6 linked regions of the Homo sapiens genome follow. The protein of the gene in region 5 purifies or fractionates together with the protein of the main gene of each other region. This does not show direct contact. Each region holds a gene or a part of one and is shown on either strand. Other genes may lie near its edges. The genes, in order: ANKLE2, SNX3, ITPRID2, APAF1, UMODL1 and FNDC3A.

What was found.
Region 1: the proteins of UMODL1 (region 5) and ANKLE2 purify together in Homo sapiens (affinity purification with mass spectrometry; one large-scale study listed by BioGRID and IntAct). This does not show direct contact.
Region 2: the proteins of UMODL1 (region 5) and SNX3 purify together in Homo sapiens (affinity purification with mass spectrometry; one large-scale study listed by BioGRID and IntAct). This does not show direct contact.
Region 3: the proteins of UMODL1 (region 5) and ITPRID2 purify together in Homo sapiens (affinity purification with mass spectrometry; one large-scale study listed by BioGRID and IntAct). This does not show direct contact.
Region 4: the proteins of UMODL1 (region 5) and APAF1 purify together in Homo sapiens (affinity purification with mass spectrometry; one large-scale study listed by BioGRID and IntAct). This does not show direct contact.
Region 6: the proteins of UMODL1 (region 5) and FNDC3A purify together in Homo sapiens (affinity purification with mass spectrometry; one large-scale study listed by BioGRID and IntAct). This does not show direct contact.

Annotation. Positions count from the first base shown.
Region 1 is NC_000012.12:132,727,871-132,732,444, forward strand, and holds part of ANKLE2 (ankyrin repeat and LEM domain-containing protein 2), read right to left. Parts: intron 2,401-4,574; coding exon 1,809-2,400; intron 294-1,808; coding exon 162-293; intron 1-161. UniProt on the Homo sapiens protein: Involved in mitotic nuclear envelope reassembly by promoting dephosphorylation of BAF/BANF1 during mitotic exit.
Region 2 is NC_000006.12:108,226,068-108,231,226, forward strand, and holds part of SNX3 (sorting nexin-3), read right to left. Parts: intron 1-5,159. UniProt on the Homo sapiens protein: Phosphoinositide-binding protein required for multivesicular body formation. Specifically binds phosphatidylinositol 3-phosphate (PtdIns(P3)).
Region 3 is NC_000002.12:181,897,510-181,902,668, reverse strand, and holds part of ITPRID2 (protein ITPRID2), read right to left. Parts: intron 3,790-5,159; coding exon 3,750-3,789; intron 3,656-3,749; coding exon 3,557-3,655; intron 1,974-3,556; coding exon 1,765-1,973; intron 904-1,764; coding exon 203-903; intron 1-202.
Region 4 is NC_000012.12:98,675,446-98,680,604, reverse strand, and holds part of APAF1 (apoptotic protease-activating factor 1), read right to left. Parts: intron 3,181-5,159; coding exon 3,054-3,180; intron 329-3,053; coding exon 203-328; intron 1-202. UniProt on the Homo sapiens protein: Oligomeric Apaf-1 mediates the cytochrome c-dependent autocatalytic activation of pro-caspase-9 (Apaf-3), leading to the activation of caspase-3 and apoptosis. This activation requires ATP. Isoform 6 is less effective in inducing apoptosis.
Region 5 is NC_000021.9:42,069,691-42,075,321, reverse strand, and holds the start of UMODL1 (uromodulin-like 1 isoform 1 precursor), read right to left. Parts: upstream 4,006-5,631; coding exon 3,930-4,005; intron 1-3,929.
Region 6 is NC_000013.11:49,205,251-49,210,409, reverse strand, and holds the end of FNDC3A (fibronectin type-III domain-containing protein 3A), read right to left. Parts: intron 3,330-5,159; coding exon 3,015-3,329; 3' UTR 631-3,014; downstream 1-630. UniProt on the Homo sapiens protein: Mediates spermatid-Sertoli adhesion during spermatogenesis.

The sequences.
Region 1 (4,574 bases), on a different chromosome or scaffold from region 5:
TCCTGTGTGCAGAGAGCCACAACACCCAAATCCACAGCCTGGCTGACGGGCCTGCCAGCGTTGGGAAAAGCCACTGATAGGTTCGCATGAAGTGGAACTGGACCCTGCAGAAGTTTCCAAAAGCTGCCCTGCGGGTGACAGGCTGTCCGGGCCCCACATACCTCTGTCTGTCCGAGGGTGAGTAGCACAGGACAGCACTCTTCCATCTGTGCACGGCCGGGAACTGATGGGGGTCGACGTCTGCACATTCAAGAGCGGCCAAAACATCCTGATCGAGTTTTGATGGCTCCTCTCTAGAAAGCACAATAAAAGAAGCAAAAACATCTTTGGTAAAAACATAAAGACTTCTAAAATACCACTACTTTTTTTTTTATTTTGAGACGGAGTCTTGCTCTGTCGCCCAGGCTGGAATGCAGTGGCGTGATCTCGGCTCATCGCAAGCTCCGCCTCCCGGGTTCAAGCAATTCTCTGCCTCAGCCTCCCGAGTAGCTGGGACTACAGGTGCCTGCCACCACGCCCGGCTAATTTTTTGTATTTTTATTAGAGATAGGATTTCACCATCTTGGTCAGGCTGGTCTTGAACTCCTGACCTTGTGATCCACCCACCTCGGCCTCCCAAAGTGCTGGAATTACAGGCGTGAGCCACCACACCCAGACAAATATCACTACATTTTAAACTCAAGAACCCAGCACACAAAACAACAGTGTGCAAGGATCGATCTGGCCTGAGCAGATGGAACCAGGGAACCAGCAGCAGCATGTCAGGGCATTAGCTCTGCAGAGGGAGGCATCTCCCAAGGCCAGGGAGGCGGATGCAGACTCGCTGTTCTGTGATGAGAAGAGCAGGGGCCAGGGAGGAGTCGCCTCTGGGTGCACGCCTGCATTCTCTATGGTAGCAGGATCCACCCGCTGTTAAAATGCAGTTTTGCATACTTGCACCCCCAGAGGGTGCTCAGTACCAGAAGGTTAGGGACATTTATCCCCTGTTAGATTGAGATTGACCCCAAGATGGCTTTTCTTCCTAGAAGGATTTAGAAGAGATCATTCACACCACTGGCAGGCACATCCCTAGCAAATAACAGCCAACACTAGGATCACCCACGGTCCAACCAGAGGAAGACCCAGAAAGAGCATCTAGAAGCTGGACTCAGAGACAGGAACTGAACGCACACGGCAAGTCCACACAAAAGCTTGTGTGGAGGCCGGGTGCGGTGGCTCACGCCTGTGATCCCAACACTTTGGGAGGCCGAGGCAGGTGGATCACGAGGTCAGGAGTTCGACACCAGCCTGGCCAATATGGCGAAACCCCATCTCTACTAAAAATACAAAAATCAGCTAGACGTGGTGGCAGGCGCCTGTAATCCCAGCTACTCAGGAGGCTGAGGCAGGAGAATTGGTTGAACCTGGGAGGTGGAGGTTACAGTGAGCTGTGATCGCACCACTGCACTCCAGCCTAGGCGACAGAGCAAGACTCCATCTGAAAGAAAGGAGAGGAGAGGAGAGTCGAGGGGATGGGGTGGGGGGATAGGGGAGGGGGAGGTGAGGGGGAGATGAGGGGAGGGGTAGGGGAGGGGGAGATGAGGGGAATGGGAGGGTGGGAGGGGAGGGGGAGGGGAGGGGAAGGTGAGAGGAGGGGGAGGGGAGGCAAGGGGAGGGGGAGGTGAGGGAAGGGGGAGGGGGAGGTGAGGGAAGGGGGAGATGAGGGGAGTGGATGGGTGGGAGGGGAAGGGGAGGGGGAGGTGAGGGGAGGGGGAGGGGGGAGGGAAGGTGGGGAAGGAAAGTGAGTGCAGAGGGCAACACACTCCTACCCAAAAAGGAAGAGCCGCCTGGCCGGTTCCCTGGTGACCTCGAGCTGATCCTCGTGCCTGGGGCTGCTGGGACTCAAGGACATTTTAGCGATCCTGGCTGACATTTCACTTTCTGTCCTCCTGTGGCCATTCCCGAGTTGGTCTGCGGGAGAAGGCTCTAACAAGTCTCTTTCTACTGCATTGATTCTTGAAGTCAGGATCTGATCTTTAGTTTTTGTACTTTCATCTGGTGTCTTGGAAACGCTACGTCCTATATTTTGCAAATTCAGTTTATCAAACTCAACAGTCAAATCCGAGACAGGTGGCAGATGGGCTTCCTCCCCACGGGGGGCCTTTGGTCTCTTGCCCGCCAGGGTCCTGCTGTGATTCAGAGGATGGCAGAGCCCATTTCTGCTGCTGTGTGGACCTCCCGGCTCGGCGGCTTCTATGAGGTCTGCCTCCTGCTCCAAGGGGAAGGCGCTGCACCTCGTATGTCCAAAAGCACCGACTGTGGGCGGGCTGTTATTTCGAGCTGCATTTTGCCGATTTTTTATTTCTTCCAAGCTCATGTCATCTTCATCTAGAAACGCCCTCACGGAAATGGAATTGCTGCCTGTGAGGACAACAAGGAGCACTTCAGTGATGGGAACGACAGGAAGCCACGGAGCTGCTCCGCCCCATCCATGACCAACTGCCGTGACCCCAGCAACAGCAACTCTTATACCCAAAACCTCCCCACTCCATCCGCGACCAACTGCCGTGACCCCAGCAACAGCAACTCTTGCATCCAAAACCTCCTCATCAGATTTCAGGATGGAAAACCACCCACACGACTCCCTGGAAAAGGGCAAACAGGACCCTCCAGACACAATCAGGCTGCTGGGGCCAGGCACAGAAGCTCACGCCTGCAATCCCAGCACTCTGGGAGGCCATGGCAGGGGGGTCGCTGGACCCCAGGAGTTCAAGACTGCCTGGGCAACATAGCGAAACCCCGTTCTCTATAGAAAAATTAGCTGACATGGTGGCACGCACCTGTAGTCTCAGCTATTTGGGAGGCTCAAGTGGGAGGATCGCTTGAGCCCAGGAGGGGGAGGCTGCAGTGGGCTGTGACTGCACCATTGCTTTCCATCCTGTGCCACAGAGTGAGACCCTATTTCAGACGAGGAGGGAAATAAAGCTGCCAGGCTGACTTTTCTTTCAAAGGCAGGGACATGAAAACGCCAAGGGCAGCCCAGGTGATGGGCGAGATGACTGCCCTGCACCCCCAGCCACCCTCCAGCTCCGATCTGCTGCGACCCCAGGGGCTCCGAGTGTCACAGTGCCCCAGAGGATCCCGAAGATCGTCCAGAACAACTCCATGAAGTAACCCTGCTGCGCTTTAGGTGTGAAGATAACACAGAAGAGCTCCCGGGCGCAGCACTGTGCGACAGGCAACAGAAATGTCCCGTTTGGTGTTCACGATGGTGGCCGCGGCCACAGGAGGATCCAGAACACTTGAGCTGTGGCTCCTGCTACTTAGGAAATGCCTCAACTTTATTTAATATTTACTAATTAAAATGTACATAGTCACAAGACAACACTGTAAATGAGGCCGCTTTACAGAAGTGAGTTCTGTGCCACCATCAGCTACAACACAGCAAGGTCAGACTTCAATGATTCCTGTATAACGACGGCACTGACGTCGCTCTAGTTCTGTGGTTCAGAGTCACAGGTCGTGACTGTTGAAGATTCACTGCTTCTTAGTTTAATGTATGTCAATCATTTTCATTTTCTATCATTCCAGGGAGTTTGTTTTATAAATGAAGTGTCTTGCGGGCTAATGGTTCTATTATGACCTTACACACACAAACTCACACAGACACACACTCACACACACACACACACAGTTTAAACTGTATATCTGCTTTAATTTGTATTTTAGCAGATTCGAATCTCTAGTTATTAGCAAATTTCTGTTTTTTTAAAAAAATAAATAGAGACAGAGTCTCACTATGTTGCTCAAGCTGCCTTCGAACTCCTGGGTTTCAGCAATCCACCCACGTTGGCCTCCCTAAGTGCTGGGATTATAGTGTGAGCCGCCACGCCCGGCCGCTGGGATTGCAGGCCTGAGCTCCCGTGCCCGGCCATCGTTGATGTTTTTATGAATCACTTTTAGATTTTGTAGATTAACCTCTTCCATCATGCTCTTTCCATTCAGTGCATCTGTGCTTTGGAAGCACTTTGCATCGTGGTGTCTGATATGCACCGTGTGAAGTGCTTTGCGTGTGCGTCCTGGTGTCTGATATACACCGTGTGAAGCGCTCTGCGTCCTGGTGTCTCATATGCACCGTGTGAAGCGCTCTGCGTCCTGGTGTCTGATATGCACCGTGTGAAGCTCTCTGCATGCTGGTGTCTGATGTGCACCGTGTGAAGCGCTTTGCGTTTGCGTCCTGGTGTCTGATATACACCATGTGAAGCGCTCTGCGTCCTGGTGTCTGATATACACCGTGTGAAGCGCTCTGCATCCTGGTGTCTGATACGCACCGTGTGAAGCGCTCTGCGTCCTGGTGTCTGATACGCACCGTGTGAAGTGCTCTGCATCCTGGTGTCTGATACGCACCGTGTGAAGCGCTCTGCATCCTGGTGTCTGATACGCACCGTGTGAAGCTCTCTGCGTCCTGGTGTCTGATACGCACCGTGTGAAGCTCTCTGCGTCCTGGTGTCTGATACGCACTGTGAAGCGCTCTGCGTGCTGGTGTCTGATACGCACCGTGTGAAGCTCTCTGCGTCCTGGTGTCTGATATGCAC
Region 2 (5,159 bases), on a different chromosome or scaffold from region 5:
AAGGAGAAGAAAGATTTTATTTTATTTGAGAATTTTATTTGAGACAGGGTTTCACTCTGTAACCCAGGCTGGAGAGCAGAGGCATGATCATGGCAGGGTCAAGTCAAGTGATTTCTCCTACCTCAACCCCCTGTGTAGCTCAGACTATAGGCGCATGCCATCACATCTGGCTAATTTTTGTACTTTTGGTGAGACAGGGTTTCACCATGTTGCTCAGGCTGGTCTTGAACTCCTGAGTACACGCAATCCATCTGTATTGGACTCCCAAAGTGCTGGGATTACAGGCATGAGCCACCGTGCCCAGCCAAAAAGATTTTAAAATGTGCAAATTATCACAAAGTTTGTAGGAGACAGAAATGACTTAACATAATAACTAATGCCATACCCTACCAAAAATACTACTCAACACTATATATTCTCTTAGATTATATTCTGTCCGTTAATTCAGACTTTGAACTAATTAGCACAGAATTTGCATAGAACTAAAAAGTGTTTTACAATTGGAAGAAAAAAGTTAAGTGCCACCTGAAGGAAAGACTGGCTTCCTACTGTGTATACAGGGACATCATCTTGTAATATTCACTCCTAAGAAAGTTCTACTTATTTGTTAAGCTTAATGCTACTGGTAAGTAGCTGTCACTCAGCACAAGAAAAGCTTTTAATTCAGGCCCTTAAATCCATTTTGTAGTGGTCTCAATTTTTTCCTAAGTGTATTAACTTCTCTATGTTGTATACCTTACAGCTCAGAATTTTCAACAGATGCTATTGGGCATAACAGTGTATAGGTTTCAAGCATGAAACCAAATCTCACAAGAGATTTAAAAGCACTTGAATTTTCTTTCCCAGGTAACCACAACATTTGTTCATTGTATAAATGACTAAGGAAAAAATTGCACCTAACAAGACTCTTATTATACTAAAAGTCAAGCTTATATTTAAAGATGCTGGCTTGTTGTACAGAGGGTATTCTCATTCCCCACAGGGAATAAAATTAGGTCCCCTGGAGAGTAGAATAATTCCCAGAAAGAAAGCACTGGATTATTTCTCTCTAATTTCACCTATTGGCTTTTTAACCAAGTTCACCCTTCCGCATTAAAATATTAAGTCTTTGTAAATGCCTTAAAGATAAAAAGGCCTTTACAGAGTTGAGTGTTTTCTGCAGGTGAGATTTTACATTCTGAATTCCCTCCTCTCAAATTACTTTACAAAGGGGATTAACTGCTCTCTTTATTCAAATACGTTAAGATCAAGCTTGCGAAAAGAGTCCCCTAAGAATTTTCATACTTCTGGGTACGGAAGTCTATAAAGTTAATCTCTGAAACAACATATCAAGCTTACAGGTACAATGTTGAGAGAAGAGTGCCAATTCAGCTCATTTTACCTTCCATTTTCCCTTTTGAACTTTTGACACAATCATGATTATATCTGATTCACTCTAACAGAAAGGGGAGGGGTGAGGGGGAAAAGTACTTTCCCTTCTATGATTAGCTAATAGTTTGATAGTTTATATACTTAAATTTAGAGGACCATGATTAGCTTAAGAAAGTTCCTTTAGTTTTCTTAACTGGTTATGATTTCTCTTTTTGCATGAGGACTGCTTTAGAGTTTAAAGTCACATCAAGAAATTCAAACATCACTTGCCCATTACATATGCAGTGGTTAACTTAGCCTGTTAAACGTCTTCCTCATCATTACAAGGATTTGTAATTCAATGTAACTGATTAAAATAACTAAGTGCAAAATGTGGGTTTTTTTTTTTTGTTGTTGTTGTTGTTTAAGGTACTGAACTATCACTGCTGAAACTCCTGTGATTGGTCACTTTCAATTTATTTAACTTTCATAAAATGATTGAAGGGCGGAGAGGTTTTTTACCTACAGCTTCAGGAGGACTAAACTATTATTTACTGATCATCTATAAAAGGGCACCATGCTAGATAAGGGAGAATCATTATTTATAATGATGAATAAGATGCAGACCTGGCCCTTATGAAACATACACCAATCAAGGTTAGAAAATAAGCATATAAAAAGTTGAATTTCCATGGTTAAAAATACTACAAACTGGCTGGGCATGATGGCTCAAGCCTGTAATCCCTGTACTTTGGAAGGCTGAGGTGGGAGGATCACAGGAGTTTGAGACCAGGCTGGGCAACATGGTGAGACCCCCATCTCTACAAAAAATAAAAAATTAGCTGGGCAGGCTGGGCGTGGTGGCTCATGCCTGTAATCCCAGCACTTTGGGAGGCCAAGGCGGGTGGATCATCTGAGGTCAGGAGTTCGCGACCAGCCTGGACAACATGGTGAAACCCTGTCTCTACTAAAAACACAAAAATTAGCCAGGCATGGTGGCGGGTACCTGTAATCCCAGCTACTCGGGATGCTGAGGCAGAACTGCTTGAACCCGGGAAGCGGAGACTGCAGTGAACCAAGATTGCGCCACTGCACTCCAGCCTGGGCAACAAGAGCGAAACTCTGTTTAAAAAAAAAAAAATTAGCTGGGTATGGTGGCACATGCCTGTAGTGGGAAGATAAGGTGTCAGGATGGCTTCAGCCTTCGAGGCTGAGGCTGCATGAGCTGTGATCACATCACTCACTGTATTTCAGCCTGGGTGACAGAGGGAGACGGTCTCAAAAAAAAGGGGGGCATTTTGGTGAATACATTATCCATTACTCTATTAAATACACATAACTTTTGAATGAACAATTTCAATGGGAATTAATCCTACAAATATTTCCACACATACAAAAATATTTTAGCATTGTAATAGACACAAAAAAAAACCCCAAAAAAGACCAGAAACAATAAATCTTACATTACAAGCTTATATTACACAGCTTTTTACAAAATATAACTCAGCCATAGGTTAATCAGAAAAGCTGTCTAGAATGTATGACATGTAAAAAGTTTCAGGCTGGGTGCGGTGGCTTATGCCTATAATCCCAGCACTTTGGGAGGCTGAGGCGGGTGGATCACTTGAGGTCAGGAGTTCAAGACCAGCCTGGCCAATACAGTGAAACCCCATCTCTACTAAAAATACAAACATTAGCCGGGTGAGGTGGCACGAGCCTGTAATTCCTGCTACTCCGGAGGCTATGGCAGGATAATCGCTTGAACCCGGGAGGCGGAGGTTGCAGTGAGGTGAGATCATGCCACTGCACTCCAGCCTGGGCGACAGAGCGAGACTCCACCTCAAAAAAAAAAAAAAAAAAAAAGTTTCAGAACAGTATATTATATAGCATAATACCATTTGTATAATATGAAAAGCACGGAAGAATTGACAATTGATTTGGCCCGGATTCATTCATTCTTTCCCCTCCTTTTCTTTCCTTTCCTCAGTCTCTCTGCTTCCCCTCCCTCTCCCCCTCCCTCCCTCCCCTTCCTTCCTTTAGAGACAGGGTCTCCCTAAGTTGCTCAGGCTGGTCTTGAACTCCTGGGCTCAAGGGATCCTTCCACCTCAGCCTCCCAAAGTGCTGGAATATGAGGTGTGAGCCACTGCGTACGGCCAGTCAGGACTCTTTTTCGTTTTGTTTGTTTTTGAGACAGAGTTTCGCTCTTGTCGCCCATGCTAGGGTAAAATGGCGCGAGTGCAATGGCCTCAGCCAGGACTCTTTTAACACAGAGCTAGCCATACTATAAGACAGCTGAAAATGGTGAAAATAGTGTGAGCTAAATGCAGAGAAGAAACAAGTACAGTGTATATTTAGTATATAATTCTTGAATATTCTAAAGCATAGGGAATGATGGGAAATAAAACTGAAAAGTTTAAATTGCACTCTAAATATGGGGCTAAGGTGACTACCTGTGAGCATCAGGAGTTAATAAATATGTTTGAATAGAAAAATGATAGCTATGAACAGAAAAAATAGAACAGAGAAGTTACTACAGAAGTAGAAGCCACAGATGAGCTGCATGTAGCATTAAGGTGTAGAATTAAGAACAGATGGCTCTAGTTGATTCCTAGGTTTATCTGCTTTGAAATGTATGGACAAGAGTCAGACTACTGAGGCAAATTACAGCAAAAATCCCTTAAAGGTTTTATCTTGGATGCCACTTTAAATGCTCTAGATTTACCCAGAAAGAATGCTGAATTCTGAAATTAAATGTAAATCAGGCTTAAATATTGTTAACTTACTTTAAGATGACTAAAACTTTTGAAATTTAAACAGCAAGATTTAGTATTCTCTCACTCTAATATTCATATTTTCCCCCTAATTTTAAGAGAAGTTGCTTAGTATCAGGCTGAGTATAAAGTGGAAGCCACAATTTTCTTCCTAGCTACTGTTCATTTTATTTCTTAACAGGTAAAAGTGTTAAATACAACCATCTGTATGAAATAATATTTGTAGGAAATACAAGAAATATGTTATTTGTGGGAAATAACAATAGATCAGCCGATGTGGGCACAGTGATCACAGACAGGTAAGATGGGAGACAAGCAAAAGTAAAGTACAGCATAGGGCAAGAACCAAAAAGTAAGCCACAGCCTTCATCTATTTGTATAGGTATATACTAGTAAATGCTGAAGATTCTGAGTTTGAGTAACCCTGGACTACTTTAGACTTCAATTTTGTTCATGGAGTTCAAAAGTTCTGCAAATCACGTTTCATCATAAATCTGAAGCAAAGACAGAGGCTCAAATAATCTGGATAGCTCTCAAGGGTTCTATATTAGAAACCCAATATTAACAGTCACTTAAAGCTTATGTCAGGGCCCAAACTAACATTAAAAGAGCAGAGAACTGTAATTACCTGCATCTCAAAAAAGTTAAGTTGGTTTCCTGGAATCCACTGAGTCCATAAAACTATGTTATTCCACACTCAAAACATGCCTTTGTTAATTGTTATTTGCCAAATGCTAGTTAATTTGTTACCACTACTTAGTAACATTTCTTTGGAAAACTATAAAATAGATCACCAACATTATCAAAGAAGACAGGCAAAAAAAGAGGGTCTCCCTGTGTTGCCAAGGGTGGAGCACAGAGGCAACATCCTAGCGCGCTACAGGCACTTGGGCTGGAGGGATCCTCCCACCTCTGGTGGTGTTTTTTTTTTTTTTGAGACACAGTCTCCCTTGTCACTCAGGCTGGAGTGCAATGGCGCGATGTCGGCTCACTGCAACCTCCGCCTCCTGCCTCAGCCTTCCGAGTAGCTGGGATTAC
Region 3 (5,159 bases), on a different chromosome or scaffold from region 5:
GAGTTACTGAACTGTCCCATTACCTCGACATCACATTATCCTGAGACCAATTCTTGGTTTGTGAAACATAAACCTGGAAAGTCAAAATTAGAATAAATTTTTCTAGTATAAATCTATTAGCTACCTCTCATTTTATAAGCATTTTTGGTACTTTTTTTCCTAGTCTGCAACTTGAAACCAGTCTCAGTAATTTTTTACCTACCTCTTCCATTTCGAAGGAGTCCTTCTGCTGTGTCATTATATTTCTTATGGATGGTATTGTCAGTGGTGCACAAGGCTCTTTTTCAGGTGTGGATATATGGACACTTTTCAGCTCACTGCTATTTTCCAGCTCACTGTGGCTGGATATGTTGAAATCACTATCTAATTTGGATTCTACAATACCAGATTCCTCACCCAGTTTACTCTCATGACTTTGAGTTTCTTTACTTTGTTCATTTTCAGTTCCTTGGTTAAAATTACTATTTGCTTCATCAGAAATTCTATCACTATCAGCATTCTCCGTAACAGCTGCTGAACTACCAGAGACTTCTTCTTTAACTGTAGCCAACATAGAAGATGACTCTTTCTTCTTCATAATTTTTTGAGACTTTTGATCGTTTTTATTGCCACTTTCTTCAATCACTGAAACATTTAGAATCTTTCCTTTTTCAGCTGATGGAGAAGGACTACTACTTTCTCCTTTCTCTGTTTTATCAACACATAAATTCAGTTTTGAGAGTGTTTTCATTAAACGATTTGCAGTGTTACTTCGAGTTAAAGGTGGAGGTGGGTCTGTCTCCTTGTTAGAGGTCACTGAGGACATACTTCCAATTCTCTGCAGGGGCGTCCCGGAGACTTGAGAATATAAAGAAGAAAACGCATTGGCCACAGTAGTAAGCACTTCAATTTGACGAAAACGGCCTACCAAAAGAAACAATATTAATGATATGTTTATATTTATATATATACATACACATATATTAAATGCATATTATTGTTTAGAATTCCAAAAACTACACTTAGATCACAAAGATTATAAAACCCTATTTTTTCCTCATCTAACACTTAAACCTTCTCTACATTCACTGGGTGGGAAGGAGCAAGATTTTTACTCTAAGCACTAGAATTTGTATTTTTAAAAAATCAGAAATAAGCACAAAGCATAATGGCAACATTGAATAAAACAGAAAGAACTAGCTATTGAATCTACAGTTGTGATTCTATTCTGAAGTCTTGAACTCCATTAAGACTCTTTCAAAATTCTCCTAAGAAAATGCATGTAAGCATATATTTTATACCTAATTTGCAGGGTGAGGGATTTATTGATCTCTTAAAACTGATCCATGAACAATGCAGGATTGGAATCCTATTTTTGGAATCTTTGGCTAACAGAAAGAAAACAAGCAAAGATATGAGTGAAACTGATCAAATTAGCCAGACTAGTTCCTGAAACAGACTGACTTCATTTAAGATTAACAAGGCTCCTCTCCTACTTCTTTTCTTCTTGAATAAAAGCAATCTGTAGACAACAATAAGGTTCTGCAAATAAGTTATGGTAGCACTTAAGTCAGGAATTGGGGAGGAGGGGAAAAATAGGCAAATTAACCACTATAAATGGAGTAATAAAATAGCTTAATTTTAACATGTAAAAATGGCTTTTGCGTTAATCAATCTCTTTACTTTCCAGTGCTATTCCTGAAAATTAAGGCTTTAAAATAAGACCATCTTGCTGTAGATGCTATAATTTAAGAAAATAATATGCCTAACACTTAAAAATCTTACTTGTTAAAGCATAATTTGGGTTTTCTACTTCCATCCGTTGCATCTGAGCACTCAAAAATACTTTAATATCTATCCCTTTGGCAAAGGATGATGAATTAAAAAATCTGGAAGGAATTTTAGAAGCAATATCTGGTTCATCACGTCCAAATCCAAGATTATAAAGAATTTCTTCAGGATCTTCCTCATAAAGTTCCAACAATTCTGAAACACTACAAAAAAAGGGGGCAAAAAAGGAAACATGAAAATATAAAATAAATTGATAGTCCACACCACATTATAAATGAATACATATTACTGATTTCCTGTGATAAAATCTTTTTTCTCAGCTTCTGCTCTGGAAACCATTATTTATTTTACCATGTTTACACATGTGTACTGGGGAATAAATAGCCCTTATAAAGGGTTCATTGTCTCAAGTTGCTAGAGTTGCAGAAAAGAGCTAACCCCAACGAACACAGTCAGAGATTCCCTACGTGATTCCTCACCTTATTTGTTTTGTCATTTTAAGAGATTCCCTGTAAAGCAGCTAAAACAAGTAGAAGACAGATGATGAAGAATAAGGAATGAACAGATTAAAGCAGAAATTAAAAGGAACTGAGGGACATTTTGTGAAATTTGAGCTTTTCTGTTATCCTTGTCCTAGGAGTGGCAATTGTCCTAGGAGGAACAATAAAGATAACAAGCTGATTTCAGAGAAGCGAGGGAGGAGCTTACTTTCAACTTCTCTCCAACCACTTCCACTCAGGAAGTAGGAGGAGTAAGGTACAGAGAGTGTGGGTTACACAAAGGTAACTACTCTAATCCTATTGGGAATTAAATATTTAGTATCCCTTCTCTCTCATACCAGTGATAATCCAAGCTTTCTAAGACTCACTGAAGAAAACAGGAAAGTTAGAGATGGAACTTCAACAGAGAGACATTTCAATTTGTTTCAGACAAAATGCTCAGATTCTAATATTATAATTTGGATAACAGTTTAAACTGGATTCCATAGGCACATGCACTGATGTATTTTAATATACTATATGTGCGGGCGGGAGAGGGGCAAGGGTATTTTTCTGTTTGGCTTTTTTGAGACAGCGTCTCACTCTGTCAGCCAAGTTGAAATGGAGTGGCACAATTATAGCTCACTGCAGCCTCAACCTCCTGGGTACCACTTCAGCCTTCCAAGTGGTTGTGACTACAGGTGGATCCCACCATACCCAGCTAATTTTTGCATTTTTTGTAAAGACAGGGTTTCGCCGTTTCCCCATATTGCTCAGGCTGGTCTTGAATTCCTAAGCTCAAGTAATCCACCCACTTTGACACTCCAAAGCACTGGGATTACCGGTGTCAGCCACTGGGCCTGGCTATACTATATATTTGAAAGATCTTTGGTTTAATGTGTTGAAAAAAAGTATGCTTAAATATCAAGCTGTAACTTAGAAAAATTTATTCTGATTTTTGTGTCAGAGTTAACTCAAGTCCTTAACAATGAATTTTGGTTCTCTACAACTACAAGTTACTCCGCTATGGAGTTCCTCTTTCAGGCTGTTGAGAGGGCTCAAAATACTCATTTATGGGTTCCAGCAGCAGTATAAGCCTATTTATTGCATTTTATTTAATCTCAAAGTAAAACAAAACAAAACAAAACAAAACAAAAAGCTCCTATCAGTTGTGCTGGTACAGGAAACGCTCTTTTTGTGTTCTTTCTGATTTCATATGATCAAGGTCAAATCCAAGATTGAAAAAATGATAAGAGTAGGTCATCTATAGCACAATGTAATTCCAACACAATTTCAGAATAAGTTACCTTGAAACTGTCCCACTACTTTTCCCAGATCCAGTGGAATTCATACTTCTCCCTTTCTGATGAAACTGTAATCTTCTCTCTTTGGCCAAGATATTATTGCTACGAACAAAATCAGATTATATAAAACTTTATAACTTTATTTTCATTAAAGGTCTTCATTTTTTAAAAGAAATAGAACAAAACAGCTACATACCAGTTTTCAATTTGAGCATCACTTTCATGGAGGTGGTTGGCTACAGGTAAAAACAATAAACGTAGAGCACAATTGTTAGTAGGACTATAACTACTATGATACAATTATCAAGAAATCTAATTACCTACAATATTAGAATTAAATGCCAAATATATTAAACACTTATCTTGGTCCATTAAATCTGCATTATTAAAAGTGATATACAGATAGATAAGAACAGGGCCAGGAGCTTTTGAAGGGTGTTTTTGTGTTGTGGCAACATGAAACTAACTACTCTCACTTGAGTGCTTAAAATAAAAAAACGTATAGGGAACCAGTTAAATTTCTTTAACAGGTTAGAAATAAGTAATGAGGAAGATATGTACCATATATGTGGTACTAATTATTAAATTTAAAAGCTATTAATGAATAATATCTTAAGAGGAAAACATGATTTAACATTAAGTGTGGCAATAGTATATGTCAGTTTCTAATGTGAATTTTTTTTAAGGTTATAACTGATTTTTCACACATATAACATGAAAATTTCTACTTATTTCAATATAAACTTTCTTTTAAAAATTGCCTTTCAACTTTATGATAGAACTTTAGCTTAAAGTTCTAAACAGGTAAGTGTTAATGTTTAAAGTTAAATTTATAGACAAATACAAAGAATAAAATTAATTATAAACACATCTATTTCAGCACACATGAATTGCTTTTCATTTCTGATCTACAAAGTTATGACAATTTTGTGTTTCTTTGTACATCCACCAGAAAGGTGCCTAACTCACAGCACTCAGTAATTATTTACTTAATGAATGGAAATAGCCTTGAAATAATTTTCAGTAAAACAACATAATAGATTTACTCTTTCATGAGACTCCTTTTTAGGTTCTGGTTTCCAATAAAATCATTCAATATTATCAAACTACCAAGGCAAATATCAAAAGTGCAAAGTGCATTTTAATAACGGATTGACAACATGTTCAATTGTACTGAGTGGGAATCAGTAAGTTTAAGCTCTTTATAGAGCTTGAAAATATATGAACAGAAATAATAAGAACTAATATATTTGCATATTCCAGAGTTTTAAATGTTAGAAGGTTCTAAATAAGTAATTTACTTTACAGATGCATTTGAAACAGGAAAAAATCAAGAATATTAAATTCAATGTATAAATTCACTATTCACCAACTTGTAAGCTTTAAAGACTTTTTAAAAATCCTTGTTTTTTTTAAAAAAGTACACATTAATAACTGAGCTATACAGCTATGAATAATCTATGCAATTTGATCAATGAGCTATAAAATAGCTTTTAAAACACCAGTAAAATAATTAAAAATTCTTATTTTTTGTACAAGAAAGCTTTATTATAAATCTACTGGAAAACATTACATAACTTGTAAAAACTTTTAAATAGCACAACAC
Region 4 (5,159 bases), on a different chromosome or scaffold from region 5:
CCCTCCAGCCTGGGTCACAGAGCAAAATCCTGTCTCTTTAAAAAAAAGTAAAGAATTTTCAGATAGTGTTAATTTACAATGAATCAGGTTAGTAGATCAACAGGTGAGAGTCCTTTAACTCTACTTACTCTGGTCTCATGATCATGGAAAAATAAAATGAATTCTGTTGTGATTACAACTCAAGAGGAAAAGATTTTCCTACCTTCACTTTTTTATCCACTGAGCAGGTTGCTATAAATCTGTCATCTGTAGAGAATGCACAACAAAGCACTTCATCCTCATGAGCCTTGATTTCTAGAAGTTTCTCTCCTGTTTCAGCTTTGAACACCTGCACAAGTAACAATAAAATATTTTTTATAATAAACTGCTTAACTACTGGTCATCATTCAATAAAAATCTTTAAGTGAGTTTAATCATTGTCATTTTGCAAAACAGAAAGGAACCTTGGCAAAGCTACTCCCAAAATCAGAATTTCTGTCAGAATGTGTATGCCTTCACATAACTAGAGAACTATTCACTGTTACATGTTTGTAAATATCAATGAAAATGTTACAGGATCTTTGGGGTGTTGATTTTCTGGCCAGAAACTTCTGTGGCCGGTGGCGCCTTTGCCCAAGTTTTGCTTGGGCCCACTGGTCTTGTTTCACCCACTTGGCCTGACAGGCTGCATTCAGCTCACACTACCAGCCTGGGTCCCAAGCCTGCCAAGGGCGAGTCAGGCGTGGAACAGCGAGGCGTGTGTGAGTGAGCGTGGGGTCCAGCCACTGCGCACAGACGTGCTGACTGCTGCAGCGGGGCAGGCAGCTCCAGGTGCCAGCATGGGCTCTGGCTCTCTGTGAGGCTGTGGCTGGACCAGGCACACCACAAGCAGCTTACACGCTGGCACCGGGGAACACGGTGGTGCCCAGAAGCTTGGAGATGCCAGGAACCGCGGGGCCCCAAAGAGGGAGTCACAGCCCTAGCTTGGGGAGCTCCCAAGTCTGGGCTCCCCGAAGGGCCGCAGCTTTTCTTTACTTATCTTCACTTGCAATGCGGCAAGCAAGGGGCATGTCTCAGCCCTGTTTGTGTTACAGCTCTTTTAGCCTCACCATTCAGTGGGATCCCAAGTTCTTGTCCTACAACCAGGAAGAATGTGGTACGCTGACAGGTGGAAGGTGAGCAAGACAAACAGGAGCTTTATTGAGCGATAAAATAGCTCAATAAACCTGCGGGGGGCAGCTCCTTTCCACAGCTCAGGAGAGGGTAGCTCCTCTCTGCTAGGCAAGTCCTCCTGACAAGTGTTCAGCTATCAGCAGAGAGGGTAGCTCCTCTCTGCAGCTGGTCCTCCTGTCATCTGCACAGCTCTCAGCAAAGAGGGGGCACTAGAGTGGGTTGCTCCTCTCTGCAGCTGGTTGTCCCAGTGTCTGCTCAGCACTGGCTAAGCCCGAGGCTTTTATGGGCTTCAGAAGGGAGGAAGTACATGCCAACTGGTCCATGGGCAGACATGGGCAAGCCTGGAAAAGGCACTATAAGTTCCCACTCCAGTCCATTCAGTCCACACCAGCAGCCCAGCCCCCAGTCTTCAGGCCCTTTGTGGCCTGAAGGTGGGGCCTCATTGGTGACCCGCCCCCTTCCACCCAGGAACCTGTCTGCCTCCTGCTGCCATGAATGGCACCCAGGCTGTAGGTGCCAAGGGGAGCCTGCAGGCCAGTATCAAACTGCCCTCAGCACCCCCTTGGCTTCCCTCCTATGCTCATCAGCACCCAAAGTCCGGAGGGGGCCGAGGCGGCAGGGGGCTGGCATGTCAGCACTGCCCCAAGCATGTGCACATCTGGCCGGGCTGCAACAGCACCCAGGCTCAGCCCCAGCTTTGCTCTAAGATCAGAGTGGGTGCCAACAGTAGGGAGAAGTCAGGCAGCGGGAGCAGGCACTTCCAAGCCTACAAGGGCAGGGGGTCCTTCCAGGTCCCCCAAGAGTACAGGGATGCCTGAGTCTGCAGCCACCGCTTGGGCAGCTACAGCTGCACCAGGGGGAAGGGGTCCTGCCTGCTCTGTGGAGCCGGAGGCCCGAGCCTGCAGCTGTGGTTTGGGCGGCTACAGCTACACCCAGGAGGGCAGGGCTCTGGCCTGCTCCATGGAGCGGGTTCCCAGGTCCACAGCTGTGGCTTGGGCGGCTACAGCAGGAACCAGGAGCTCCTGCCCCAATTCAGAAGGGGTAGGGTTCCTGCTTGTCCCCAGCTACCGCCAGCTCCACAGAGCATGCAGCCCCAGCTGCGCCTCCCTGCTGCAGCCAGCATGATGGCAGCAGCCACTCCAGGCAGCCCGCCGCTGCCATCAAAAAGAAGTGTCAGAGCACAGCTTCAGCTCTTGAGACTATTTTGGCAAATTCTTAACAATCAAATAAAACATTTCATTTAATATGCATTCTCTCTGGAACTCAAAAGCCAAGATTAATAAAATTAGTAATAAAGTACACATATAGACATAAGCTATGGAGTCATAATCTTGCAAAGACTAAAAGTATCCTAAATACAAGTTTTAACTAATTTCATCATGTTCTCTGCAAAATCAAAAGGCAGAACACAAACATAAAGAAAAGTACTCATTAATATTTTCTGAAAACAAAGGGAATCTTAAAGGAAATTCTTTAAAACAACTTAGGAAATAGTCTAGTCCAGTTCCTATTTACAAGAAAAAAACCTATGCCTAAGACTTTGATAAAATAGGTATTTTCCTAATCACTGTTTTTTAATCACAGCCCTATTCCCTGTGCTATGAAGCCCTACGTCTTCTAACAATTATTTCCTCACTACCCTTAGCTGACAAATGGATGGCTGGGAACTGACTGGCAGGGTAAAGGGCACTTCCTTACCACCTGTAAGTTTAGAATTAGGAAAACATGTAACTGTATCTTTTAAATCTCTAGAGAAACCTTTAATAAAATGTTCAAGAGAGCTGGATTCCTCTGTTATTTCTAAGTTGCAATTTTCTTGAATTTTAGGATTTAAACATATTCTGATCTGCACAAAACTGGATACATGCCTCTTTGCATTTTTCTCAAGAGATGTGTTTTACCTGTAAGGTTTTATCAGCTCCACAAGAAGCTATTCTCTGACCATCCTCAGAAAAGCAGGCATGGTAAACAGCATCTGTGTGGGGGCGGACAACTAAGCGGGAAAGATTCGTGATGTTTTTTTTGTTTCTAAATACAGGGAAAAAATGAACAGAAATTAAATAAATGAGAGTAAAAGTAACTATTTTCTTTCAGTACTAAAATAAACTGTCTTTTAACATGGTTATGTTCCCCAAAATACAAAATTCTTAAAATCAGATTACTAACATGCAAATGACAGCACAGATCACCAAAAGAAAAAAAATAACAAAAGTAGCATTTGTAAGAGAAATGTTACCCTTTATCAAGCAACCTGTCACGTGTTACAAATGTCACTGAGTTGGAAGAAATCTAATTAATCAAATTAATCAAATCTAGTTAATCAACATGTCACTTTCCATTTTCCTTTGATACATTAATAATGATACATGTGCAGATAAATCATTATATAAGGATACCTTCAAAAATTCTCCATCTCTTTTTTAAAATAAAAATCATAGCAAAATGCTCATTTCCTAACTGAAGGAAACACCCACCATTATTATGATGTACTTTAAAGCTGCTCTTCTCAGCCAGGCGCAGTGGCTCATGCCTGTAATCCTAGCACTTTGGGAGGCCAAGGTGGGTGGATCACCTGAGGTCAGGAGTTCAAGACCAGCCTGGCCAACATGGCGAAACACCGTCTCTACTAAAGATAAAAATTAGCTGGGTGTGGTGGCACGTGCCTGTAATCCCAGCTACTTGGGAGGCTGAGGCAGGAGAATCGCTTGAACCTGGGAGATGGAGGTTGCAGTGAGCCAAGATCGCGCCACTGCACTCCAGCCTGGGCGACAGAGCAAGACTCCATTTCAAAAAAAAAAAAAACTGCTTCTCTCAAACTACAATTATTCAGACATACCAAAAAGATAAAGCAACATCATATTCTTTGTATCTCAATCTAATGAATATCAACTATTCCACCAGTATAGATATTATATTACTGCTCATAGTATCTAAAGTATAAAGGGGCCAGGCATGGTGGTTCACACCTGTAATCCCAGGACTTTGGGAGGACGAGGCGGGCAGATCACTTGAGGTCAGGAGTTCGAGATGAGCTTGGCCAACATGGTGAAACCCCATCTCTACTAAAAATACAAAAATTAGCAGGCATGGTGGCACACACCTGTAATCCTAGCTACTCGGGAGGCTGAGGCATGAGAATCGCTTGAACCCTGGAGGTGGAGGTTGCAGTGAGCCAAGATCATACCACTGCACTCCAGCCTGGGTGACTGAGGGTCTGTTTCTAAATAAATAAATAAATAATAAGGTGTAAAGGAATGTAATGTATACTTAAACCAGAAAAAACTATTAGTGCAGTGACAGAATTTCATATACGTTACATCCCTGTCACTTTGAGTACAAGTAAATATGTCAAATAGTATTGTGCTTATTTTAGAAATCAAGGGTTGGCAGTCAGACAAACCTAACCTCATTTCTAATACTTATTAGGTGTGTAAATGAGCAAATTACTTAACCTAACAAGTTTTTATTTCTTCATATGTCAAATGGAAGTAATGGTATCTATTCTAAACAGCACCCGACACATAAAGGTGCCACTACTATCATTCTTCAAAAAACTTAACCACACACAAGACAGATCAAGTGATAAAAGTGAACACAAAGGTAAATCATATTTAGATCCTGCCTACAAAGTATTACACTTTAGTAGAAGTGATAAAACAAACAAGTACAGTTGTTCCTCAGTATTGATGAGGGATTGGTTCTAGGACCCACTACAGATACCAAAATCCATGGATGCTCAAGTCTCTTACATAAAATGGTATAGGATTTGCATGTAACCCACCACATCCTCCTGTATACCCTAAATCATCTATAGATTACTCAAAATACCTAGTACAATGTAAATGCTATGTAAACAGTTGTAATACCATCGTGTTTAGGAAATAATAACAAGAAAAGAGTCTGTACATGTTCAATACAAACATAACCATCTACTTCTTTTCTAATATTTTCAATCCAGGTTGGTTGAATCTATGGATATAGAACCACGGATATGGAGGGTCGACTGT
Region 5 (5,631 bases):
TTTGGGAGGCCGAGGCAGGTGGATCACTCAAGCTCAGGAGTTCGAGACCAGCCCGGCCAACATGGTGAAACCCCCCCCCCATCTCCAGCAAAAATATTTTTTAAAAATTAGCCGGGTGTGGGCTGGGCGCGGTGGCTCATGCCTGTAATCAATCCCAGCACTTTGGGAGGCCAAGGTGGGCGGATCACGAGGTCAGGAGATCGAGACCACCCTGGCTAACATGGTGAAAGCCCCTCTCTACTAAAAATACAAAAAATTAGCCGGGAGTGGCGGTGGGCGCCTGTAGTCCCAGCTACTTGGGAGGCTGAGGCAGAATGGCGTGAACCCAGGAGGCGGAGGTTGCAGTGAGCCAAGATTGCGCCACTGCACTCCACCCTGGGTGACAGAGTGAAGACTCCCTCTGAAAAAAAAAACAAAAATAAAAAATAAAATAAAAAATTGTGGTGGCTGGTGCCTGTAATCCCAGCTACTCAGGAGGCTGAGGCAGGAGAATTGCTTGAACCCAGGAGGCGGAGGTTGCAGTGAGCCCAGATCATGTCACTGCACTCCAGCCTAGGTGACAGAGCGAGACTCCATCTCAAAAAAAAGACCAGTTCAACTTTTCAGCCGTTACCACTGTGATCAGGAGGAGGCACAGTCACCCCCGCTGCAGGACAAGCATCAGGTTTACCCTATTGGGCCCCACATATCTCTCACTGGAGCCTGGTTCCTTTACACAAGGCCCATCGCCCCTCCATCAACGTGATTACTCCGTTCTCGAGACCCCTGGCCCCATGACATTCACCACGAGACTCTTTGGTCATGGACATCCCCTGACGTGGTGCCTGGGCTTCCCATCTCCCCGGGAGCCCCTACTGCCTAGTTTGAATTGATTGTGTTCCTCCAAAAATTAGTGTGTTAAAGTCCTAAACCCCAGTAACTCAGAATATGACCTTATCTGCAGTAATGTCTTACAGAGGGTATCAAGTTAAAGTGGAGACATTAGGGTGGGCCCTAATACAATATGACTGGCCCTTATACTAAAGGGAAATGTGGAGACAGACAGGCACACAGGGAGAAGGTAGAGACCAGGGTGATGCTTCTACCTGTCAAGGAACACCAAAGATTGCCAGCAGCTCCAGAAGCTGGAGGCCCGGAGCAGAGACTCCTGCAGGGGCTCGGGAGGAGCCAGCCCTGCCCGCAACTTCATCTTAGACTTCCGGCCTCCAGACCTGTGACCGAATCCATTTCTGCTGTTTAAGCCACGCAGGCTGTGTTTCTTTGTTACAGCAGCCCTAGCCAGTGCACACAGGGATGGTGAAGGGTCCCCTCCAGCTCCCCCGTGGCACCTAGCAGGGGGCCCTGAGTACATGGACTCTCAGTGCAGGATGAACGGAGGATTTGACATACAGTGCTTGCATTTCAGACACTCAACCCCTGAGCTCTAAGCTTTACTAGACTGTACCCCCAAGAGGTGGGGGCTCAGTATTACAGTTGATTTCCCTCAATGAGTAGCTGGATTGATTTCTGGGGAGGAACACAGAGATGGGAGCAGAAATGATCACAAAACCACTGCTGTCCTTATTCGCTCCACTGGGGCAGCATCTCTGAAGATTCCCTCCTTGGACCTCGCAGCAACCTACAAGTGTGCAGAAAGCAGGACTCCAGGGGCTTGTTACTCACCCCAGGAAGAAATAGGGCAGAGCCAGCCCTCAAACACGGTGAGGGAAGAGGCTGCAGATTTGCTCTGGGCAGAACACAGGTGCTGGACCACACACTTGCTGCACAGCGACCCCACTCCACAAGCAACAGGGACTGGAGCTGCAACTTCCTCTGGGGGCTGAACCCCAAATCACCCTGCGGGCCCAGCAGGGCCTCTGGGGATGGGGACCACCTGCTGCTTGGCATCACCAGTGGGGTAGTTACTGTGAGCTCTGCAAAGGAACGGGAGGTCCTCATCGTACGGGGTGGAACAGGACAAATCAGCTTCCGGGACCAGGGCAGCTTGGCTGAGAGCCTAGAGGTGACTTGCATGAAGAACGGTGGAATATGGCCGGAAGGAACGCGCTCACCTACTCAGTGACCACGCCGAGCTAGGCAAAGGCCGAGGACTTCCTGCACCAAGAACTTAGCAGAGTGGATCTAGCTTGCGTTTTTCATCGTAACCTGAGCAGAGATGCCAACCACATTAAGGACACTTACAGCTCCTGGTCTCTAGAGAGGTGCCAGGGCCCCACCTGATCGTTACATGGCCCCAGCTGGTCCGCAGCAGAGCCGTCCTGCACACATGCGCACACGCACACACACACACGCGCGCGCGCACACACACACACACTCATCTCCTGTGGAACCCGGGAGATGTTTGCCCTGTTTTGTTTTTAACATTTTATCCGAGGTCACGTGCCATCCCAAGCCTGGCTTCTTGGCCAAGCCCAGAGAAGAAAGCAGTTAGCAGATCCTGCCATCCCGCAAAGACCCACAAGGGCCATCAGAGCAGGAGCCGGGGGTCTTGGATTCCGGTCTCAGAGATGGGAAAGCCTAATGCTCTGGGGCCAACAAGAGTCCTGGGGTCAGATGGACCTGTGCTCACACCCAGGCTCACAAACCCCTGTTGCATGATTGCGCCCATGTCATGCCCTCCCAGTGCCCCTCTCTTGTCATCTGTGAAATAACAGCCATGTCCTGTGGCTGCAAAAGGCTGAAGTGGGGTCATGCCTGTGAAGGCAGTGCTGGCACACAGGGAAAATTCGGGGCGACCACGTGTGGGGTTGCTGAGGTTCTGCCCCGTGTCCTCATATACAATGAGGGGTTCTGGAAACACCTCCTAAGACCTTCTCCAGCTTCCCAGGATACCCACCCATTATGCATCTGAACTGTGGGGTCTACACATTACCTGTTCCAATGGGAAAATCCATTTCACAAATCACAAAGCAAAATCCTGCTTCTGGGTGAAAAACGTTAAAGTAGTACAAAAACATAGTTGATTTTAGAAACAGAATGGATTCCTTTAAATTTGTAACTGAATATGACAGATTTTAAGAGGAAAATGATTTTAAAATTCCGCAGTCCCATTTCCCTGGATTCTGGGGTTTCAGAACTCCCGTGTGTTTTTAAGAAGCTGCCCTGCTCTCCGCATGCCTGGGAAAACTCCGGACAGAGCCCTGGTGCAGCCTCTGGCTCCTGTGGTGACTCTGCCCTGTGAGCTGTGTGGCCTGGGCAAGTCCCTGATCCATTCTGGGTCTCCCTTTCTTTTTTGTTTTTGTATTGTGGCTTTTTTTGTTTGTTTGTTTGTTTGTTTGGGGGCTTTTGCTCTGCCGCCCAGGCTGCAGTGCAGTGGAGCAATCTTAGCTCACTGCAGCCTGGACCTCCCAAGCTCAAGTGATCCTCCCATCCCAGCCTCCTGTGTAGCTGGGACCACAAGTGTGCACCACCATGGCTGGCTAATTTTTTTTTTTTTTTGGTACACATGGGGTCTCATGATGTTGCCCAGGCTAGGTCTCCTTTTTTTTTTAAATCTGTAAGTGAGGACTTGAATGCACCAAGGTTCAGGAGACCTTTCTTCTGCGTCTGTAGGAGCTCACTGTTCTCAGTGGGATCTGAGGACCCACAGCATCTGCATCACCCACAGACATGTAGAGTTCCAGGCCCTGCACCCCAGACCTGCTGGCTAAGAATCTGCATTTTACCCCCACGAACGCCCAGGTGATTCAGCAACAGGTTCCCACTGGGGGAGTCCTCTTCCCAAAACCCTACCCGGCACTCCTGCCCCACCTCCACAGCTGCTACCATGTGCGCTTACCAAAAAGCTTGTCCACAAAAGAACAGATGTCGCCTCTCCAAGCAGAGGCGTCCTTGCCTGCCCAGGTCTCCACAGGGGGCTGTCCTCATGAGACCCATGCCAGGAAGCCCCTGTCCTTAAGAACTGCCCATGCCAAGCCCAGACCCCTCACCTGTGAAGCCGCTGGCCTGGCTTGGGCCCACAGCACTGACCAGAGCCAGCAGTGCCAGCCCCGAGGTCCTGAGCATCGTCCGGCAGTGGTGGCAGTACAGGGCTCTGGGCCTCTACCAAGAAGCCTGGGTCTCTGCTACGCCAGGGCTCATAGGGGCCTGAGCTGCCTGGACCTGGAGAAACGGCCTTTCTGTCCCCTGTGCTGCTGCAGGTGGCAATGACTTCAGAGGAAGCACCGCTGGGAGCAGTCCCTTATGCCTGCTCGTTAACACCCACCATTGCCATGGCCGTTTCCCTGGGGGCTCCTGCGTGTCACAGCCTATTCTGCTCCAAGCAGATGGCATCTTTTAGGAAAGGTGAGTACCCAAAAGCCCAGACCGCATCGCTGGATCCCATCTCGTTGTTACGCAGAAAACACATTTGAGACTCATATCTGAGTCTCTCCATCAACACGGAGTATTCTCTTACCCTATCGTTCTGAACTGGCAGAAGAAAACAGCATCAAATCAAAGTGGAACATCACGTTCAGAAAAGCGTCCTTCACACGGTTCCACAATGCACTTCAAAAGTCACAAAAATGTCCAGGTGCTTTGACCCAGTCCTCTCCTCCCGGAGCTTGGGCTGAGAGCACGAAGCTGTGGTCACAGGGATGTGCATTACCTATTATGACTTAAAGTGGGAAATTACATAATTGGACAGCCACAGGAGAGTGGGAGAGTAATTATTACAGAGCATCTGGATGCAGCATTACACGGGCGTTGAAATGCTCACCATGAAGTTTTAGTAGCACAAACAAATACTTAACAATGTGAAGTCAAAACAGCAACGCATGCAATTTCATCTCCATGAAAGTGACAACTCTGTACAGTTATATAAGCATGGAGAAAACTCCAGAAAGGGCCCTGGGACAGGAAGAAAACATTTTGAGGAGTGATAAGAATACAGGTGATTAATGTTTTATTTCAGTAGTCATCATGGTATATGTGAAGTAGATTTCTAAATCTCATGTTAAGTTCTTTCTAGCTCATGATGTTTTCATACTGCACCGTTGATTGCCTCTCACTTCTTAGTGTTGACTGCTGAAGCCCAATTTTTAACATTGGATGAAGAAGATCTTGTTGATTTTACTGAGGAAACATTCAGATGAATTAACAAAGATTCACGTTGGCTGCATGGTTCGGGAGCATAATTCCCTGGTGTTCTAGATACAAAACGATTCCTCCAGAAGGGACCTTCTCGCCTAACTCCCGCACCAACGTTGCTACCTCTTTTATTCTCTGTAGATTAATCTCTGAGATGATGAACTGCTGCATTTGCTTGGCTAATGACTAAATGTCAGATGCCATGACAAGAATACAAAAAGGAGGCTGGAAATGATCTCACAGCAAAGGGGCTGCGTACAACGGGTGTCCTTGGAACACAGCAGCTTTTATAGAAAACCAAAAGCTTCACACAGAATTGGCTCATTAAAAAACGTTTTCATACGAAAAGAATAAATGTTAAAGCTATTATATAATACTCAAGGAAGTGAAATTTTATTAACACTAAAAGAATAAAAAGTATTATGATTTAAGTAAATCTGAACATTTTAAAATGCAAGATGAATTTGTATTATCTTGTATATATCATCTCAAAATGTTTGCTACTATAATGTATGAATGTCTATAAAATATCAAGGTAAATCAGGGATAATATTACAGGTT
Region 6 (5,159 bases), on a different chromosome or scaffold from region 5:
GGCAAAGCTGAACAAAAACATGATCCTTCATCAGTACTGGGAAGTCTGGAACAGCTAAGCCTGGAGTGAAGGAGAGCTACGTGGTAGCTTGCCTGACAGTGTTCTTTAAACTGGTTGTCCTTTAATAGGACTCATGATTGTCCTCAACCTAGACCTTGAGCTTGAAGCTATGTACTTACCTCTTGAATAAAAAAAAAAAGTTGGCTTTATTTTAAACATTGAGTTCTCCTCTTTCCATATTGGCTTCTTCAGTGAATTTTTCAATGATTTTTTTATGGTGGTAAAATATTTATAACATAAAATTTACTAGCTTACCCATTAAAAAAAGAAAAAAAAAAAGGCACTGAGTGTCCATCCCCAGGAGGAAGTTCTTGGGATGGAAATTTTAATGGGGGATGAGTGAGAGAATGTTGGATTTTCTGGTGGAAGGCAGACCCAGCAGTGCCACTACCAGGAAGGTTCTGGGCCTCTGGTGGTGGGCGAAAGAAGGTACTAGAAAATAGGGATGTGGGAAAGGCAAGGAGAGGTTAGGGATTTTCTTCCCACTGGGAAGTTTACCTTAGACTCACTGTATTCTTTATATGTGGAAAGGAAGTAAGATATTTCATGAGTTGCACAAAATCAAGTCACTAGGATAAAACTTCTAATTTTATTCTTTACTGGGCTTTATATAATAAATATACATCCTCTCATGTTGAAGATTTATATACTGTTGGGAAAAATGTTTTAAGCTCATTGGAAGAGGGGAGACCATAACATTTCACTTTCTTAAACAGGTAGCAAATAATGAATATATATGAATACAATAAACGTATCTCAAAAAGAATGATACAACTTTTATTTTCCATGGATTTTACAGATACTTTTGCTACATAGTTTATGTATTTTTATGAGATTTTTTTCATTTGTATGAAGTTCATTCAGCCTTATACAATTTTAAGGTGATATGTTTGGTAGTGTATCTATAATCTTTAAAAAGTTTAGAGTTTTTGGAATGTACAGTATATGAGGTAAAATCAAGATTACATTAAAAATTGTTTTCTCCTCTGCACTAATTTTGCAGTGAGGCTCAAATGGCAAGTATACTATTAAATGACATTTACTATCAAAAATAGGAAGTTCATTTGAATTACTATGAAAAACATAAGCCACTGTAACTTGACACAGTGGCACATTTTACCATTTTAGACATTCAACTATATATAAATCTCTGGGCTATTACACTCAGACTCATTTGTACTGCCAAATGTGGCACTTTAAAGAAGTTTCTAGAAAACAATCGCAATCACTGTTGTTTCTGGGGAAGGTTATCACCCTATACATAAGAGATTAAATTTAAATAAAATGTAAACATACAGTATATTATAGTGACAGGTCATTCTTACCACTTAGAAAGGCCAAGTTTATCCATTTCTTTTTTGAACAAGGGTTAATGTTTTTCTACAGCACAGATCATTTGACATAAAACTGTTACAATACATGCCCATTCTATTATAAAAGAAATTCTTCAGAGATCTTCAAAGCACAAAAAATACGTTCTTTTTTCAAAGACTGACAGAAGTGCTTAATAATCACTAAAATGCCAACCTCAGCAACTAAAAATTAGTGATTCGCTATCCTAAAATTCAAATAATAAATTAAAAAAGCTAGTTACAGGTGTTTTACGGATAACAGATGTGCTAAAACAAGAATTGTAGATAGTTTCATTATAAACTGTATTATTACTTGCAGTCATCGACATCTAGGCAAGATGTACAATGTGATACTTGACAAAATTCAGTCTGATCATCCAATAACTCACAAATGCAAGCTCACAAAACATTAATGAATTATGCAATTGCAAAGTGCTCTAATGCAACATTAACCACATGCAATCAACAATTTGGAACAGTATCCAAACAGACATTATACGTTAAACGTTTAGTTTTCAAGAAAGAAAGCAGCTTGAAGTTTACTGGTGCAAATTAATTTTGTCTTCAGATTTGGTGCCCCAAACAAAAAGGTTAGGTTTGATTATGAATTCTGATGGTGGTGGCAGCAGTTATGGGAGAAGCAGCAGAAACTTATGGGAGTTCTTCAAAATTAGCCTATACCAGACAGAGTGAGTGTATGTATGTAATATATACTTCTACACTTGTTATGTGTATATGTGTACACTTGTTATATGCCATATATGTATGTGTATACCCTTATACACATACATATAGTTCAAAGGTTCACAAAACAGAAGCCAAATAGGTTTGAAATTCAATTTACTTTTATGATTACTTTCTAAAAAGTATTTAAAAGCACTCAATTCTTTTCCATGTTCTCAAGACCTGAAGAGGTACTTTTTGAGTAAACATCAAAATATTTTTAGGCCAAGTAAACTGTCTGTTCTTTAAGTACTTATCTGTGAATTCATGAATATATATTTATAATGAAGAACTCCACATTTATCAAAGAAGCTTTTCTTCATGCATACTCTTTCATCCAGTTTTTGTTTCTAAGCCCCTCCAGTTACTCATCATAATCCCACTTACCAAATAATTAAGACAAATGAGGAGGTAGAAATATAGCACTAGATTGCTTTCACAGCATCAGACTTTAACATTTTATATAGCATGTTAGTGTAAATTCTATTCATTCTGAATTTTTCACTTGGTAATAATCTTTAAAACAAACAGATCAGGTTATCACTGTTACACTCATGCCGATTCGTCAAAATATCCATTCTAAATTGTTGCCTCTTAGAAAGTTTTTCTATAAGAAGGCATTTGTTAAAAAAAGAGAGAGGGAAAGAAAAAAAGAAGACCCACCCTAACAAAAAAAACAAAATTGATATTTTTGTGGCTTGCATTCTAATAAAGTGCCAGCCTCTACCTAACAATATAAGCACTGAAAATGGCAAAAATGATGTGCTATAGTCTCAATGCCAGTGCTAAATGCCACTGTTTTTTATAAAAGCAATACAGAAATAATTTTAGTACATGACAAAATAAAATGTAATAGAGTTAAAAAATAAAGTTATATTTTCACTTGATTACAAAGTACTGAATGATAAAGGCAATCAAAATGGAAAAGAAAGCAAACAGCACAAGGATGACGGCAGCACACTGCTCGTCACTCAGTGCCCGTCGGGTCCTTGTGCTTTCCACAGTGTCTCTGTTGGTGCTGGCTGGTGGTTCAGTCCTCTGAGAGATGAAGAGCACTGTGGTGCTGTAGGGACCTACGAGGTCCTGGTGTCCCAGAGAGTCTTGGCACTGGCGAATGGCACATACACGGAAGCGATATTCACAGTTCAGCTGAAGGCTGGAATACCGGAAGGAAGAGTCGGGACCCTTGTAAATCTGTTAATAAAATATTAGAAGGAAGAATTACGTGTGAAGGCTGGACAGAAAATGTGTTAAAACTGGCTAGTGTTAGAATTGTTTTTCATGTGAAAGCCAGTGAATGCCATTGATTTTATCTTTTAAATGACATGTTAAAAATACCTGTCCATTAAAGTACTTATCTGTTTGTTGCATAGGGGCAAGAGAAATTTCAAAAGCGAGGATCTACCCTTATACGGTTCACAGATGAATTAAGGAGTGCAGATGTGCCCCAGGGCAGCTAGAGAACAAGCAAAATCGGTCCTCAAGCATTTTCTTGCTTTTCTCAAATGTAAGAAGTCATTTTTCAATGCAATCATTCCATCAAAGAAGGGATAGTGTCTACTTTTGCTTCCCCCATTATGTCTTTGTATAACTGATAAATTTCCATATAATTTCAAACATATCTGTACAATGAAATGGAAAATGAATAAGGGGAGCTTTCTATAGGTGCCTATGGCAAATCACTGTATAAACCAGAGAGGGGAGATCACTTAGAATCAGAAAATAGGACCTCCTCTGCCATGCCTCACAAGGGAAATAAAAAGAATGAAATTCCACGGATTTTCAGAGGAATGTGCTAGTAATTAACCCATTTATGCCAGAGGTTGCAAATTTTTTTTTTGTGAAAAATCAGACCTTGGCAATAACCTTGATCAGTGAGATATAAATAACTACCACAAGCTTAGTGTTCCAATAATGGAACACTAGGCATAAATAAGAAGCTATATACTAGAACTGTTCACCCCTGGCATCCAAGGTCTGCTCTACCACTTCACACTCCAGATGTGATTTTAGACCAACTACCTTAGTATAACAGACATACTAGTAGTTAACATGTATGATAATTATGAGGATGAAATGAACTAATGCTTGTTAAAGCACTTAGCGCAGTGCTCAGCATGCAGTCACTGCTCAATCTGTAGGAGCTATCATTTCCAATAATGAGCAACCTCCCACCACTCATTCTGTAATTGAGAAAACCAAGGTTCATAGGGTTAAATGACTTGTCAGTTGAGTTTCTCCAGTTAGTTGGTGGGCTACAAGTCAGAAGAACCAACACATGGGGGCTTTCAAGTACTTTTAGCTGCCTCAATTGTACCTGTGATGTAAATCTAAATTTTTACATATTGCTTTGCTCTCAAAGTAAAGTAAGATCTCTGTCTCATTTTTCTGTCTCCAGAATCTAGCATATAGTAGGTACTTAATAAAAGGACATTAAATTAGTGAATTATTGGCAATAAATAAAAATGTGGATGCTGATAACAATATATAAAGGAACTTACTGAAAGAAGCTTTAAGATAAATCTGAAAGAAAATGGTGACTATACATTAGTTCTAAGGATGCATAATGTTTCAGGGAATAGAATGTAGAAATGATCCATGTTTGGGAGATGGTACAGGTTGGGTATCCCTTATAAGAAATGCTTGGAACCAGAAGCATTTCAATTTTTTTGATTTTGGAATAGTTGCATATTTACTAGTTGAGCATTCCAAACCCAAAAATCTGAAATTGGAAATGCTCCAATGAGCATTTCCTTTGAGTGTCATATCGATCCTCAAAAAGTTTCAGATTTTGGGTGGAACATTTTGAATTTTGGACTTTATTTGGGATGCTTCAACCTGTAAAAGGATTCACTTAAAACAGAATGTTGTATGATAAAGTAGTGTAAAATTGTATACATAACACTGAAGTAAATTGAGTAAAAATTAAAAATATGTATTTGTCTTATGGATATAATAGATGATTTTTGTCTTTATACTTTCCATGTGTCTTCATATACCATTCCATGAGCCTGGCAGTATTAG